Regions from separate parts of the Homo sapiens genome. Here region 2 is linked to region 1. The links come from fine-mapping of genetic effects on gene expression. A gene starts in region 1. The other region holds a variant in brackets. All regions are shown on one strand. Distances are from middle to middle. Region 1 holds the start of MLYCD (malonyl-CoA decarboxylase). Region 2 has its middle 15 kb from the start of OSGIN1.

Evidence for each region.
Region 2: its variant is fine-mapped to the expression of MLYCD in fibroblasts (GTEx, PIP 0.94).

The regions. Positions count from the first base shown.
Region 1 is chr16:83,897,433-83,900,160 of GRCh38, reverse strand. MLYCD (malonyl-CoA decarboxylase) reads right to left here and starts at 1,046. Exons shown (of 5, transcript NM_012213.3): 1 at 489-1,046. The coding sequence starts at 1,016. RefSeq lists silencers at 377-546, 847-1,276.
Region 2 is chr16:83,936,321-83,939,336 of GRCh38, reverse strand. No RefSeq gene overlaps it. Among named protein-coding and RNA genes, the nearest start is that of OSGIN1, 15 kb to the left of the region's middle. The variant C/T (reference allele first, on the strand shown) is at 1,700.

The DNA of each region.
Region 1 (2,728 bases):
TGAGTCCTATTTACCTTTGTGCATTTCACAGGACTTCTCAGGACAATGTCTCACACATAGCGGGTGCCCAGTGAACTTCTGAAACACCATCCAGGGTCTCAGAAGGCTGCCTGATGCTCTAGTTCAGGTATACCATATAGATGAAACACTTCTCAGCTACAATAATTTCAAAAGACTGTAGAGCACACACTAATCAGGTACGAGAGGTGACAGCTACCTTAAAGACCACCAAGTGCTGAGTATTTAGTAAACACTATACAAGTGAGGACTTCAAGGACAGACTGGAGGAAGGCGGGGGTGTGCTCTGACGAGGCCAGGACTCAGACAGCGTGGGAAGGGGACACAGTTGGCAGGCGGTAACTGCGGGCGAAGTGAGCGTGCTATCGGGCAGGGAAGGCGGGGTGTGTGGGACTTGGAGGGGGCAAGTGAGGACTACTCGAGGAGGGCGGCCAGTCCGCGCTGCCGGGGGATCGACGGCGGCCCCTTACCCGGACGTCCGGCCCCTCCACCAGCTTGAGGGCCTGCGCCTCCAGCAGGTCGGCCCGCAGCTGCACCAGGAAGCGCACGCCGCCGTCCAGCTTGCTGATGTGGTGGAAGAGGCCGCGATAGCGCGGCACCAGCGCGTAGCGCAGCCGGTCCTCGGCCTGCAGCAGCACCGCCGCCTCCCGCTGCTGCTGGCGCAGATGGAGCACGCCGGCGCTCTGCTCCGCCACCTGGCCGTGGTCCACGCCGAAGCCCCGCGCCAGGCGGCCCAGCAGTTCGGCCCGCTGGGCCGTCTCGGCCAGCCCACCGTAGAAGCTCACGAAGTCCGCGCACTGACCCTCGGCGGGCGCCGGTGTCTTCTCGCGCAGCTCGTAGGCCGGCGTCGGCGGCACCGCGCGGCGCAGCAGCTCGTCCATGGCCCGCTCCAGGGCGCCGGCCGCCTGCCCGCTCGCCAGCCGGGGCCCGGGCGGCCGCGGGGGCAACCGCAGCGGGAGGAGACGCCTGGCCGTCAAGCCTGGCCCGAAGCCTCGCATGGTGCCCCACAACAGCTGCCGAGGGGGAGCGCCGCCGCCGCTGCCGCGCTTCCGGCTTCCGGCGCGCGCCGGCCCCATTGGCCGAGGCCGCGAGCCCGGCTGGGGACGCGGCCAATAGGAGGGCGGGGCGGTGGGGGCGAGGCGGCGGGGGCGGAGCGGCTCTGGCGGCGGCCGGAGGCCAAGTGTGGCTAAAGGTTACTGCCCCGCGGCTGGGCTGCCTCGGGGCCTGCTCCCGCGCGGCTGGCGGCTTGTACTCCGGTCCTAACACCTGACCGCCTAAAGGCACCGGCCCAGCCCCTCCTCTCTTTCCCGACTGCACTGCACAAGTGCCGCCTCCTCTCTAGATCCGAGCGCCTCCAGCCTCCCGGTGCATCAGAGTCACCTGGGAACTCCTGCACCGGAGGATTCCTGGGCTCCGAAATCAGAATCCTAGAGATTCAGATTCAGTGTGTCTGGGAGGAGCCAAGGAATATGCTTGCTTAAGAGGTGTTTGTGGCAATCCTCTGGCATGGTAGGTAGCCTTTGTTTGACCCCTGCCTAGGCACTCACCATTCGCGTCAGTGTCTTACACACATGACGCTCAGAGCCACAGAGGTTGGAGGGGTGTGTGAGTGTGTGTGGAGAGAGAGAGAATATGTCTATATGTATGGATGTATGTACACATACGCACGCATATACACATACATATGTATGTAAAAGAGACATGGAGACAGAGAGACTGATGGAAAGCCATACCCTTGAGCAAATGCCAGAATGAGACAAAGAGTTTTCTTTGAAATAGTTTTCAGATAATTGCAGTTATCAAGGCATATTTATTTTGTCCTCTAGAAAGATAGGCCTGAACTCTAGTTCCCCCTCCTTCCCCAATCCATTACAATCTGTAGAAGAGAATGTCACATACCAGCCATGTCTCCCACATGCAAAATTGCAGGAGGCATTAGGAACACAGTGGGATTTTGTTCCACTCTGATGGAAATATGGCATCTTTGGTTGGAGGGTGAGGGAGCCATGTACTTGGTTGACTATGTCTAGGTGCTAGGATTTCTATAGGTAGAACCCTTTGGTGCAGGTCTTGCAGTATAAAAGACACCTGGAGGTAGTTCTGTATGAGGACAGCCTTTGCTGGGTGTGTCTCATCTTATGGGGCACGAAGAAAGTACGTTTGGCTCATTCTGCCAAGACACAGACACACAAAACATTCTGAAAGCCTAGTGGTGGCTTTTGAGGACACCTCTCCATTCCTCTTTTCTAAGAAGTGGTGAAACCATATTGCCAGCTGGCTAAGGGAGTTGGTGGGGTCCAAACTCTGGTGTTTGTCTCTTTGCCTTGTCGAGTGAGCTTTTGTCTGTCCTAGGATACTCCTGCCTTGCTTTAGGAATCTTGTCTTGAAAGCTTGACTTTGCTTAAGCATTTGCTAAGTGTAGTACTCCCACAACCCTGTTCTTTCTCATCTTTCCCGGTGCCTTCCTTTTTATGTAATTTCTGGCTTCTGTTTTTTTTTTCTCTGTGTTTATACTTTTTTCTCTAGGCGTCAACAGCCATCCTCTGCTTTTTCCCACTCATGTCCTTATTTCAAAAGACTGCCCCAATCCAAAAATGAAATTAAAGAAACAATTCTATTTACAACAACATCTGAAGGGATAAAAGAAACATGTTTAACCAAGGAAGTGTGAGACTGGTAGATGGAAAACCACAGAACAGTATTGAAGGAA
Region 2 (3,016 bases), 39 kb before region 1:
CTGCTGGGGTGATAACACAGCCAGCCACTTTGGCTTTGTCAGAGGAGGGGAGTATTACAGTTTAGTCTACATGCAGCAGTGAATTCTGAAAGTGGCGTGCCAGGACAGCAGCACCTGGGGATTTTGAAATCCAAGTTCGTGGGCACCCTTCATCCTCCCGACTCACAGAATCAGAAACACTGGTCTGACTCTGGGGCGCAGCAATCGTTTTTCTTTTCTTCGAGACGGAGTTTTGCTCTTGTTGCCCAGGCTGGAGTGCAATGGCACAATCTCGGCTCACCACAACCTCCACCTCCTGGGTTCAAGTGATTCTCCTGCCTCAGCCTCCCAAGTAGCTGGGATTACAGGCATGGACGACCACGCCCAGCTAATTTTGTACTTTTAGTAGAGATGGGGTTTCTCCCTGTTGATCAAGCTGGTCTCGAACTCCCGACCTCAGGTGATCCACCCGCCTCGGCCTCCCAAAGTGCTGGGATTACAGGCCTGAGCCACCGTGCCCGGCTGCAATCATGTTCTTAACCTCCCCCCTACCCAGGGGTTCTGATGTATGCTCAAGTGTGAGAGCTTCTGACTCCTGGCCTAGGAATGTGTCAGAGATGAATCAATCAAAATGGAGCATCGTTTTCTTTGAGTAGATGTTATCACTATTCCAAAAAATTAAAAAGAGGTTCTAGTACATGGGGCTGACGTGGTCTATTACATAAGCAGGGCACCAGAGCCTCCTTGATGGATCATCCAGCTACCAGGTGGTCGCCTGGCTCAGTGCTGGCATGCAGGTCTGCCTCACGCAGAGGAACATGTTGACTGCACGTGTCATGTCTCCCTGAGAGCAGGTGTGGGCAGGCTGATCATTTTCTACTGGCTTCCCCCATCCATTTTCCACCTCCTCTGTCCTGCTCTGAGCTCCAGGAGGCTGAGCCCCAGGCTCTGCACCCTTACGCGCTTTGGCCAGCTGGCTTCTGGTTGCTTTTGATCAATGGGTGGCTGTGACAGAGTCCAGAGGGTGAGAGGAGTGGGTGGTCAGGACAGTGCTGTGTTGACAAATGTTTAACAACCAGTCTTGGGGCCGGGCGTGGTGGCTCACGCCTGTAATCCCAGCACTCTGGGAGGCTGAGGTGGGCGGATCACGAGGTCAGGAGTTTGAGACCAGCCTGGTCAACACGGTGAAACCCTGCCTCTGCTAAAAATACAAAAATTAGCCAGGTGTGGTGGCAGGCACCTGTAATCCCAGCTACTCAGGAGGCTGAGGCAGGAGAATCACTTGAATGTGAGAGGTGGAGGTTGCAGTGAGCCGAGATCATGCCATTGCACTCCAGCCTGGGTGACAGAGCGAGACTCCATGTCAAGAAAAAACAACCACCACCAACCACCAGCCTTGGGGGGCACTGTGGAAAGCCCTGTTTTGCAGTCCACCAATATCTGTGGCGTGAACACTCCCACCATGATCAATGTCACGTTACCAGTGTAATACTTCTGAACAGTGGAGTTGGAAAGAGATGTGCAGCTTTGCACTCTGCAGCACTACTGCTCCCTGGAACACACTTTGGGAACCATGGTTAGCAGCTGGCATAAATGCCGACTGTCACCCTTAAACTCCTGGAGACCAGGGACTTAAGGAGTTAGGGATAGTGGCTGGGGCTCAGAGGACTAGGAGGCCATGGGACAGCAGCATCTCCATCTTTTGGTTCTGGCTACCCAT[C/T]GTAATCACCTGAGACCATCTCCAGAGATGATAATCCTGGATTTTTTAAATTCTCAAATGATTGCATTGTGTAGGCTGGGGAGAACCACTGCCTTAGAGCTAGGATCAGTGGGAGAGGCAAGAGGATGATGATCTTTCTATATTGCAATCTTGGGTCACATTAATAAGGGCATAGTCTACAGAATGTGGGAGGTGATGGTCCTGCTTGATTTGTCATTGATCAATGAAACCACGTTCTGAGCCCCACAGCTTAATGGAAACACCAAGTTGGAAAATGTTCAGAAAAGAGAAACCAGTAAAATGAGGAGACTCAAAACTTGGTCTTGAGGGGCTCAAACTAGGCCTGTGCTCCACAGAACTCCACAGATAGCGGCCATTCTGGGAAGCATGGGAGCCAGTTCAGGGCATGCCATCTGCCACACCGGCCCTAAGCTCTGTCAGTTGAGGACTCACCTTTGAAGCCACTCTGGTGCTTCTGTCTTCCCACTGAGGAGCAGGAGGGATTTCCTGAGGGTGGAAATGGCAGATGCTGGGTGGGGAGAGCCCAAGATGAGGGGGACCTAGGGGCAGCGCAACAAGGATTCACTTGGGTGACGACGACGATCAGTGATTCTCCAGGGTCATACGGGAAGACCAGCTAATCTCAGGCACGATCCCATGAGCTCATGAATATTTAAGAAGGAGGATGGAAAGGAGAAGGTCAGATGACAGCACCGGCCATGCTGGTAGCTGTGCCCAAGAACGCACACCCTGTGCCGGAGGTCAGGTCTGCCAAAGCTGGGACCGCGCTGTCCTCATTCTCTGTTTCATCCCTGGCCCAGACGGCACTCAGCGCATGCTCAGTACAGTTGCATTCAATGAATGAGTGAGCAGGAAGGCGAGACGGGGTCCTGATGCGGGGGGAAGATGGGCCACCAGGGCTGGCCTTTGTGAAGAGGGGGCTTTTCCACTGAGGCCCGAGGAGTGGGTGGGGAGCCGGCCACGGGAAGAGCACTCCAGGCAGAAAGAAGAGCACAGGCAGAGGCCTGGGGGCTGGCAGGGCCCTGTGGGTCTGAGGTCAGCAGTAGGACCCGAGGGTGTGGAGCTCTGGGGGTGAAGATGGCAATAGCGGAGAGGGGGACAGAGGGTTGACCCCACAGGGCCGAGAGGCAGTGGAGTCAGGAACCAGCCTCAGGGGCTGCTTCCCGGCTGTGTGGCTTGGGCCAGTGACTTAACCACTCTGGGTCTCAGTTTCCTCAGGGCAAAATGGAGAGGAAAACAGCAGCCATCTCCCGTGACTGAGAATGACGGGTGGCGCTGGGAATGGTGCCTGGCACA